2 separate regions of the Homo sapiens genome follow, and region 2 is linked to region 1. Evidence: fine-mapped expression QTL. A gene starts in region 1. The other region holds a variant in brackets. All regions are shown on one strand. Distances are from middle to middle.

Region 1 (5,377 bases):
TTATTCCATTTTAATAGACCATGACAATGTTGATGTGTCTAATCACTCGGCAAAGCCAGCAGAAGATATATTTTAACTGCTGACCAGAAATACAGACTTAAGTTGCCATCTCATGTGAACAACACTTTCATATCTGGAAAATTTCCTATTCCCCTCTTTAGAATTTACTGTGACGTTTTTATGACACCAGGAAGAGAATATGCACACTGAGACCCTGTATCTTCCAAAAGTAAAAATCTGCTGGTCTACTTGGACTCACCAATTATTTTCTCATGAAAAGTAATTAAAAATCAGCCCAAGAACAAATTGTGACAAATTTCTAGGCATATAATTAGCAAACCAATATTTTATTTCAAAAATTAATTGGACACTTAGGTTTGCAAAAGCAGAACTTGTTCAAAAAAGAATGTTCAGTATTATCAAATATGAAAACTTAAACACGTCAATTTGAAAAAAGAAAAAAGCTGTATAAAAACAAAGCAAAACAGCAAGACCAGAGACAATTTTAATAATAGCTTTGTAAACTGAAATAAGCACCAGAGCACATGGCAACAATTTCTTCCGTTTCAGTCAAGGGTCGTAAAGGTATGCAGCTGACGAAAGAATAATTGCCCGGAAGGCCGAAGGAAAGCACCGTGTGTTGATGTAACAATGGTACATCAAGTCCTTACATTTTAAAATAAGTAACTTCTCGGTATTTTTGTGCTTGAGATATTGTTAGGCTCAAGACTACCTTCCAGAATTGTTGCTGTCTGGTTCACTCTGGGAAATGCGATCCACACAACAGCCTCAAAAAGCAGCAAAAACTTGGAAAGCAGGAGAAAAAAGTTTTGAAGCTCAAGTTATTGACGGCCAATTCCTAAGAACGTGACTTTAAACTTAATGCCACACTTACCATCAGGACACGAATTTTGCATGGCCAACGCAACAAATATACTCTACCTTATGCTTAGATTTGAAAACCCCATCATAATAACTACCATAAAAGAAACTTTCTGCGTATTACCTCTCGTTTTCAGTCACTCTTGTGTTACTGAAAGATGAGGCAATAAACTCAAAAATATTAAACCCCTTACCCAAAAAGTACAGAGCTATTACGGATTTGTAAAGCCGGCTTTGGAACCGAGGGCTTTACAAATGTAATTCCCACGACACCGTGCTGAGTCTCAAATTTGGCGTTAACGTAACTTAATTTCTATTTGTACTGGAAACGTATCAAGATATAAACTCCTCCATTACACGTGAAAATTCAAACCAATTTGGCAATCCTAGGACCCTTATTCTGCACAATCTCCATACAGTACCTCAAAGAGAGTCTAAAACACGAGAATTCATCTCATAAAATAATTCATGGAATCGGTCTAATTACCTTTCTAATTTCATCCAGCACCATTTCAAAGGACTTTTTATCCATCTTGACTACTATCCCGACGTGGTTTTAACAGTTATACTTGCAATTAAAAGACGTTCATCCCTGGTCTGCTCCGCCGATAGTAAAAAATATTTATAGCTGAGGAGGAAAAAGACTCCACGAGCAAGAGAGGATGCGAAGAGGTAGAGAGTATTGCAAACTTCGCAAAAAAAATTTCTAAAAATTGAGATTCAGAAAAACTCTTTTTATTAAAAAGAAAAAACACTCCAGTCAGGCTTCCCCAGCTTATTCACACAATGGTTCAGGGCACCTCGGGCAAGAGCCAGGTCCTCTGAGTTTTGCAGAAAAACCCGGGCTCGGCGGCAGGTTTGAGTGCGGTTTCCCTGCAGCTGAGGGCCAGGTGCCGCCAGAGGTAGCTCTTGAAGGCGCTTTCCCAGGTGGAGCGGCCGGCAGAGTAGAAACACCTGCGCTCAGAGTCCACGGGCGGCGGGGAGGGAGGCGCCGGTCTCTCGACCCGCACCTGCGCCTCGGCCGCCGGCCGCGACCCTCACCGCCGCGAACCCGGACGCATGGTCCGGCTCGCGCTCATCCCCAGCCGCTCCGCCCGACTCCTGGATACCTCGGCCCCGGCAGCAGGCGGCCCGGCAGGCTCTTTGTTACCAGCTGCTGCAGCTTCCGGGAGCGGGCCGGCGGCTGGGGAGCACCAGGAGCCGGGCGAAGAGGGGCACGGCCTCGCATAGGGGGACTCCGGAAAAACGCAGCCCCAACAGCGCCAGACGCCCTGCCTGGTTACCCCTACAGCCCCCACCAGCTCATGGGGACCTACAATAAAGCCAGTCGCGCCCAAGTAAACTCAACACTGCGCCGCCAGCTTGGGCCCCTCTTTCCTGAAAGCCAGAGGTGGGGTCCTGGTGTGGGAATATAGGCATCCATAGCGGATGCCTGGATGGTAGGAATAGGATGTGGCAAAAATCCTTCCCGAAGCCTAGCGGTCATTATTTTGAATGTCATCCCCACCATACCTCGTGTCTGAGTGTGCGATGTTTTGATTTTGCCCTCTGGATTAAAAAGAATAAATGGCGAGCGATTAAGGCATATCTACGGGCGCCCATACTTTGGTGGCCACTGAAAGTCAGCGGCGCGGACTGCCCTGAGGGCGGGAAAGGGTGGTCACTGGGTCAGCCCGAAGCACCTGACATGAGGGCGGGGACCCCGAAATGCACACGAAGTCCGGAACTGGTCTTCTGTGATTTTCATTCGCCCTGGTCTCTGTTCCCTTTCGTACTCAAAGCTCGTGCATCCAGGGAGGGGAAACCGGAGATAGGGTCTTCGGGCCCCGGGCAGACCCTCTGTGCCGCTGCAAACCGTTGCAGCCTGAGGCTGTCAGGTCCTCCCCCAGACACCTGCGGACCCTCCCTCTCCTGGCTTCCCGTCTGGTCATGGCGAGATTCTGGGTCTGCGTAGCCGGTGCTGGCTTCTTTCTTGCATTTTTGGTTTTGCATTCGCGTTTTTGTGGCTCTCCAGTGAGTTGGGTAGTGAGGAAATGACTGTCGGGTGTGCGGGTAGCCCTGTTGGGAGGCGTCGCCACGGTCGTGGCATGGAGGTGGCAGGCCCTGGTTCCCTCAGTAGCTTGTCTCAAAGCCTGCACCTGGGTCCAAACTGCCTTGACCCTTTGAGTTTAAAAATTTGTGTATGTTACATCGCCATTTTCCTCTTTCCCAACTCTTACTACATCCTCAAATAATTTGCAGACTTGTATTGTGGTCGTGTTGGTCTTTAGGCATCTAAGCTCATTTCTTTGGAATTATTTCAGTCCAGCAAACTTCTAGTTGTCAAGGCATGCTTAAAAATAAGCCCTGTTACCCGGCCCCCCCGCCCTTTTTTTGTTCTTACCTAGACGGTAAACTAAATCTGAATTGTCTGATTTTGTTTAAGGTTTTGAGGAACTTTACTTTTGCAGTTTCCTGGAGAACTGAGAAAATTCTTTACCGGCTGGATGTGGGTTGGCCTAAGCACCCAGAATATTTTACCGGAACAACATTTTGTGTTGCAGTTGACTCCCTCAATGGATTGGTTTACATAGGTCAAGTAAGTAAATAGAGATTTAAAAAAATTATGAACACAAAGGAAGTAACAGCCTTCCTGTCTTGCTGTAGTAACTGACCATATGCGTTTATATCATGCTAATTGTGCAATTTATTTTTGAGTTGGTCTCAAGTATTTTGGTTTCGAATGTGAAAGATATGTTAGATTTTGAAAGTGGTTTTTGTAGTAAAATTCTCAGTTATTTTTTTTCTTCGCCAAGATACAGATTACCTTTCCTTTAAGCTGATCCTAAGAAGTTATTTTTTGTATACCTTCAGAGAGGGGATAACATCCCAAAGATATTAGTGTTCACAGAGGATGGATATTTCCTACGAGCCTGGAATTATACAGTTGACACACCTCATGGTATATTTGCAGCCAGTACTCTATATGAACAATCCGTCTGGATCACGGATGTAGGAAGTGGTATGTATAGTAATATCTATTAAATTATCTTACTGGAAATCACATCTTTGCACATGTCCTTGTTTGTATTGTTTAAAATCAGAGTTGCTGAATCTAATTGTAATTTCTTTAACGATTCATGAAATCACATGTTTTTAACAAACTTTATTTTGTACTTCTGTGGAATTAAGAAATTTAACAAGGGCTGGACGCCGTGGCTCACGCCTGTAATCCCAGCACTTTGGGAGGCCGAGGCGGGCGGATCACGAGGTCAGGAGATCGAGACGATCCTGGCCAACACGGTGAAACCCCCGTCTCCACTAAAAATACAAAAAAAAAAAAAAAAAATCAGCCAGGCGTGGTGGCGGGCGCCTTTAGTCGCAGCTACTGGGGAGGCTGAGGCAGGAGAATGGCGTGAACCCGGGAGGCGGAGCTTGCAGTGAGCCGAGATCGCGCCACTGCACTCCAGCCTGGGTGACACAGCGACACTCTGTCTCAAAAAAAAAAAAAAAAAGAAAGAAATTTGACAAGGAGCCTGTTAATATGATCTTTCCTTGAACTTGTCTAGGGTCTTTTCCTCTTTAAAGCATCAGTTGCTCTTCTCAGATTAAATAACTCTAAACTGAAGCCAAATAAAGTGGCAGTCTCTGAAAGCAATGACTGGAATCCTTGACTCTTATTTTCCTTTTCCAGTTTTCTTTCATAAAAGATTGTGAAATCGTAACTGCTTTGTTGCTCAAAGTGCAAAGATTGCAGAAACTGTTGTTAATGTTTTTGAAATTCTACTGACTGAAGCATGTCTGAAATCTTCCTGCCATCAAATATTTTTAGTAGAAAAAGCTGAAAAATGAAGTGAGCACAACTGAATGTGCAGCTATGGAGAAAGTTTTCAGAGAAACAATTCACCTGTGGCTGTAGCTTAAGACAAGGCAATACCTGAGATATCCTGGCATTACCCTAGGAATTCAGGAAGAAATGGGATTATAAAGACATTATTTCTAGTATTCCTTGGCCCAGTTATGTTCTTGAATTGAGAGACATCCTGGTTCTACAGTCCTGGCTGATTCAGATACCATTTTTTAGAGATAATGAGTTCTCAGTTTCTGTAAGTAGTGCCATTATCACAGCTGTTCTCAGAACCCATAAGATTTCTGGGCCTCAGCTGATGGCCCATTTATTTCATGCTGTGTTTTACATAGTATGAATCTGGTTCAACCAAAAAAAGTCTATAGATTATCACTGAGTGAATTGTTAATACTATAATGAGAGTCTATTTTCACTTTTTTCCTGAAGATCCACTGTTAAAGACCATTTCTTTGAGTTCATTTTATTCATGTGATTTTTAAAAATAAGACTTCCTTGATTCCCAGAAATAAAAAGAGCACAGACGATCTCTTCATTTTTTCCATTACAGCTAATTTTCTACCCAGAGATCTGAAGACAGTTTTATATTCCCATTTCCCAAAGGAATAAATTTCCTCTAATGAAAAATATGGCTACAAATTAGCCTTTTTT
Region 2 (5,377 bases), 20 kb after region 1:
TATATTATTAAATAGATTAGTGCAATTATGTATCAAAATCATGCCTTTTATTTTACTTGTTTATATATATTTTCAACTTTTAGATTCTGGGGGGCTACATATACAGATTTGTTACAAAGGTATATTGCATGATGCTAATGTTTGGAGTATAATTGAACCTGTCATCCAGGATGTAAGGGTAATACCTAATATGTACTTTTTCAGCCCTCTCCCTCTCCCAACCCCCTCCCTCTTATATTCTTCAGTGTCTGTTGTTCCCATCTTTATGTCTGTGTGTACCCATTGTTTAGCTCCGACTTGTGAGAACATGTGGTATTTGGTTTTCTCTTTCTGTATTCTCTCACTTAGGATACTGGCCTCAAGCTGCATCCATATTGCTGCAAACAGCATGACTTCACTCTTTTTTATGGCTGCATAGTATTCCTTGGTGTATGTGTACCATGTTTTCTTTATCCAGTCCAACATTGAAGGGTATCTAGGTTGATCCCATGTCTTTGCTATTGTGAATAGTGCTGCAGTGAACATGGATGCATGTGCCTTTTTGGTAGAATGATTTATTTTTCTTAGGTTATATACCCAGTAATAGGATTGCTGGGTCAAATGCTAGTTCAGCTCTTAGTTCCATAAGAAGTCTTCCATACAAAAAAAAAAAAAATTAGCTAGGCGTGGTGGTGCATTCCTGTAATCCCAGCTACTTGGGAGGCTGAGGCAGGAGAATCACTTGAACTAGGGAGTCGGAGGTTGCAGTGAGCCAAGACCGCGCCGATGCACTCCAGCCTGGCAACAGAGCGAGACTCTGTCTAAAAAAACAAAACAAAACAAAAAAGAAGTCTTCCAACTGCTCTCCACAGTGGATGAACTAATATATTCCCACCAACAGTGTATTAGTGTTCCCTTTTCTCTGCAACCCCACCAGCATTTGTTATTTTTGACGGTTTAACAAAAGCTATTCTGACGTGTGTGAGATTGATTTGCATTTATCTAATGATTAGTGATGATGAGCATTTTTCCATTTGTTTGTTGGCCACTTGTATGTCTTCTTTTGAGAAGTGTCTGTTCATATCCTTTGCCCACTTTTTAACAGGGCTATTTGTTTTTTGCTTATTGATTTAGTTCCTTATAGATTGTGGACATTAGGCTATTTTCAGGTGCATAGTTTGAGTGTTTTCTCCCATTCTGTAGGTTGTCTGTTTACTCTGTTGATAGTTTCTTTTGCTTTGCAAAAGCTCTTTAGTTTAATTAGGTCCTACTTGTCAATTTTTGTTTTTGTTGCAATTGTTTATGAAGACAACTGTAAATTCTTTGTCAAGGCCAGTATTGAGAAGGGTATTTCCTAGGTTTTCCTCAAGAAATGTTATGGTTTGAGGTCTTATATTTAAGTCCTTAATGCATCTTGAGTTAATTTTTACATATGGTGATAGATAGGGGTCTACTTTCATTCTTCTCTATATGGGTAGCCAGTTATACCAGCATCATTTATTGAGTAGAGAGTCCTTTCTTCATTGCTTATTTTGTTGACTTTGTCAAAGATCATATGGTCACAGGTGTGCAGCTTTATTTCTGGGTTTCCTACTCTGTTCCATTGGTCTATGTGTCTATTTTTATAACAGTACCGTGCTGTTTTGGTTATTGTAGCCTTATAATATTGTTTGAAGTCAGGTAATGTGATGCCCCCCCACTTTGTACTTTTTGCTTAGGATTGTGTTGGCTATTCAGGCTGTTTTTTGGTTCCATATGAATTTTAGAATAGTTTTTTCCAATTCTGTGAAAAATGATCTTGGTGCTCTAATAGGAATGGTGTTGAATCTATACATTGCTTTGGGCAATATGGCCATTTTAATGATGTTGATTCTTCCCATCCTCGAGTATGGAATGTTTTTCCATTTGTTTGTGTCATTACTGATTTATTTCAGTGCACTTGTTGTTCTTCTAGTGGTCTCTCACCTCCTTGGTTAGATGCATTCCTAGGTATTGTATTCTTTTTGAGGCTATTGTAAATAGGATTGTGTTCTTGATTTGGCTCTTAGCTTGAACATTATTGGTGTATAGAAATGCTACTAATTTTTGTACACAGATTTTGTATAATGAAACTTCACTGAAATTGTTTATCAATTCTTAGAGGCTTTGGTGGAGGCTTTGGCATTTTCTCAGTATAGAATCATATCATCAGGGAAGAGAGATAGTTTGGCTTCTTTTATTTCCTATTTCTGTGACTTTTATTTCTTTCTCTTGCCTGATTTCTCTGGCTAGGACTCCCAGTACTGGGTTGAATAGGAGTGGTGAGAGTGGACATTCTTGTCTTATTCCAATTCTTAGGCAAAATGCTTCCAACATTTGCCCATTAAGTATGATGTTGGCCATGAGTTTGTCATAGCTGGCTCTTATTATTTTGAGGTATGTTCTTTCAGTGCCTAGTTTGTTGAAGGCTTTTATTGTGAAGGGATGTTGGATTTTATTGAAGG[CT/C]TTTTTTTTTTTTTTTTTTTGGTCTATGGAGATGATCACATAGTTTTTGTTTTTAATCCTGTTTATGTGGTGAATCACATTTATTTACTTGTGTGTGTTGAACTATCCTTGCATCCCATAAATAAAGTCTGGTTGATCATGGTGAATTAACTTTTTGATGTGCTGCTGGATTTGGTTTGTTAGTATTTTGTTGAGGGCTGTTGCATCTGTGTTCATCAGGGATATTGGCCTGCAGTTTTCTTTTTTCATTGTGTCTCTGCCAGATTTTTGGCATCAAGATGATGCTGGTTTTGTAAAATGAATTAGGGAAGAGTCCTTCCTCCTTGATTTTTTTTGGAATAGTTTCAGTAGGATTGATACCAGCTCATCCTTGTACGTCTGATATTATTCAGCTGTGAATCCATCTGGTCCAGGACTTTTTTTGGTTGGTAGGATTTTTATTACTAATTCAATTTTAGCACTCATTATTGGTCTTCTCAGGGTTTCAGTTTATTCGTTCAATCTTGGGAAGTTGTGTGTTTCCAGAAATTTTTCCATTGCTTCCAGATTTTGTTTTCTTTTCCTTTCTTCCTTTCCTTTCTCTATTTCTCTTTCTTTCTCTCTCTCTCTCTCTTTCTCTCTTTCTTTCTCTCTCTCCTTCTTTCCTTCCCTTCCCCCCTACCCTCCTTCCTTTTCCTTCAGTTATTTATTTATTTATTTTGAAACAGAACCTCATTCTGTCACTCAGACTAGAGTGCAGCGGCGCGATCTTGGGTCACCGCAACCTCCGCCTCCTAGGTTCAAGTGATTCTCCTGCCTTGGCCTCCTCAGTAGCTGGGATTATAGGTGCATGCCACCATGCCAGGCTAACTTTTTAATATTTTGTTAAGATGGGTTCTCACTGTGTTGCACAGGCTGTCTTCTAGATTTTCTAGTTTGAGTACATGGAGATGTTTTAGTAGTTAGTCTCTGAGGATCTTTTGTATTTCTGTGGGATCAGTGGTAATGTCATCTTTGTCTTTTCTGATTCTACTTATTTGTATTGTTACTCTTTTTATTAATCTAGACAGCAGTGTATCAATCTTGTTTATCCTTTCAAAAAACTAACTTTTGGTTTCATTGATCTTTTGTGTGTATTTTTGCATCTCAACTTCATTCAGTTCTGCTCTGATTTTAGTTTTCTTCTGCTAGCATTGAGGTTCCTGTTTTTCTAGTTCTTCTGGGGGCAATGTTTGATTATTAATTTGATATCTTTCTAACTTCTTGATATAGGTATTTTGTACTGTAAACTTTTCTCTTATCACTGCTTTCATTGCATCCCAGAGATTTTGGTATGTTGTGTCTCTGTTTTTATTAATTTTTGAGAAATTTTTTATTTCTGCCTTAATTTTATTATTTACCCAAAAGTCATTCAGGAGTAAGTCGTTTAATTTCCATGTATTATGTGGTTTTAAGAGGGCTTCTTGGTATTGATTTATATTTTTATTGCACGGTCATTGGAGAGTATGGTTGGTATGATTTTAATTTTTTAAAAGGTACTGAGACTTGCTTTATAACCAAATATGGTTAATCTTAAGAGTGTGTTTCCTGTGCAGTTGGGAAGAATGTATATTCTGTGGTTGTTGGGTGTAGTATTTTGTACATGTCTATTAGGTACAATTGGTCATGTGTCAGGTTTAAGTCCAGAATGTATTTGTTAGTTTTTTGCCTTGATAGTGTAACACTGTCAGTGGGGTGAGGTCCTCCAATATTGTTATGTGGCTTTTTTTTTTTTTTTTTTTTTTGAGACGGAGTTTCACTCTTGTTGCCCAGGTGTCACCACACCAGGCTAATTTTGTATTTTTAGCAGAGACAGGGTTTCCCCTTGTTGGTCAGGCTGGTCTCGAACTCCCAACCTCAGGTGATGCGCCTGCCTCTGCCTCCCAAAGTGCTGGAATTACAGGCATAAGCCACCACGCCCAGCCCTGAGTCTTTTTGCCATTCTACAAGTGCTTGTTTTATCAATATGACTTCTCCAGTGTTGGATGCATATGTATTTAGGATAGTTATGTTTTGCTGAATTGAACCTTTTATCATTATATAATGCCCTTCTTTGTCCTTTTTGACTATGTTGGTTTAAAGCTTGTTTTGTCTTATGTAATAATAGTTACCCTGCTCTTTTTTGCTTTCTGTTTGCATGATAGATTTTTCTCCATTTCTTTATTTTGAGACTATGGGTGTTTTTACACGTGGGATGGGTCTCTTGAAGATAGACGGTTGGGTCTTGACAGTCTGTGCCGTTTAAGTGGGGCGTTTAGACTATTTATGTTCAAGGTTAATGTTGATATGTAAGGATTTGATCCTGTCATTTTGTTATTAATTGGTTGTTTTGTAGACTCAATTATGTAATTGCTTTGTAGGATCTGTTGTGTATGTACTTAAGTGTGTTTTTGTGGTATCAGATATTGTTCTTTCCTTTCCACATTTAGAACTCTCTCCTTAAGTACCTCTTGTAAGGCAGGTCTGGTGGTAATGAATTCCCTTAGTCTTTACATGTTTGAAAAGGATTTCATTTCTCCTTTGCATGTGAATCATAATTTGGCAGGATATAAAATTCTTGGTTGGAATTTCTTTTCTTTAAGGATGCTAAATATACATCCCCAGTCTCTCCTGGCTTGTAAAGTTTCTGCTGAGAACTCTGCTGTTAGCCTGATGGGGTTCCCTTTGTAAGTGACTTGGCCTTTTTCCCTAGCCACCTTTATGATTTTTTTTTTCCTGTTGACTTTGGAGAATCTGATGACTGTGTGTCTTTGGGATGGTTGTCTTGTATAATATCTTGCAGGTGTTCTCTGGATTTCTGGAATTTGCATGTCTACCTCTCTAGTGAGATTGGGGAAATTTCTGTGGACTATATCCTCAAATATGTTTTCCAAGTTGCTTACTCTCTCTTTTTCTC

The links. PIP is the estimated chance that this variant, and not a neighbour inherited with it, causes the effect. A credible set is the group of variants that fine-mapping cannot tell apart.
Region 2: its variant is the best candidate, but not a certain one, in a credible set for the expression of PROSER1 in whole blood (INTERVAL, PIP 0.87).

What each region holds. Positions count from the first base shown.
Region 1 is chr13:39,035,829-39,041,205 of GRCh38, forward strand. PROSER1 (proline and serine rich 1) reads right to left here and starts at 2,261. Exons shown (of 13, transcript NM_025138.5): 1 at 1,370-2,261. The coding sequence starts at 1,414. It overlaps NHLRC3 (NHL repeat containing 3), which reads left to right and starts at 2,628. Exons shown (of 7, transcript NM_001012754.4): 1 at 2,628-2,895; 2 at 3,308-3,460; 3 at 3,736-3,883. The coding sequence starts at 2,812. RefSeq lists an enhancer at 490-599 and a silencer at 1,742-1,971.
Region 2 is chr13:39,055,820-39,061,196 of GRCh38, forward strand. The region is part of intron 1 of LOC105370169 (a long non-coding RNA gene); the gene reads left to right. Among named protein-coding and RNA genes, the nearest start is that of NHLRC3, 20 kb to the left of the region's middle. The variant CT/C (reference allele first, on the strand shown) is at 2,463.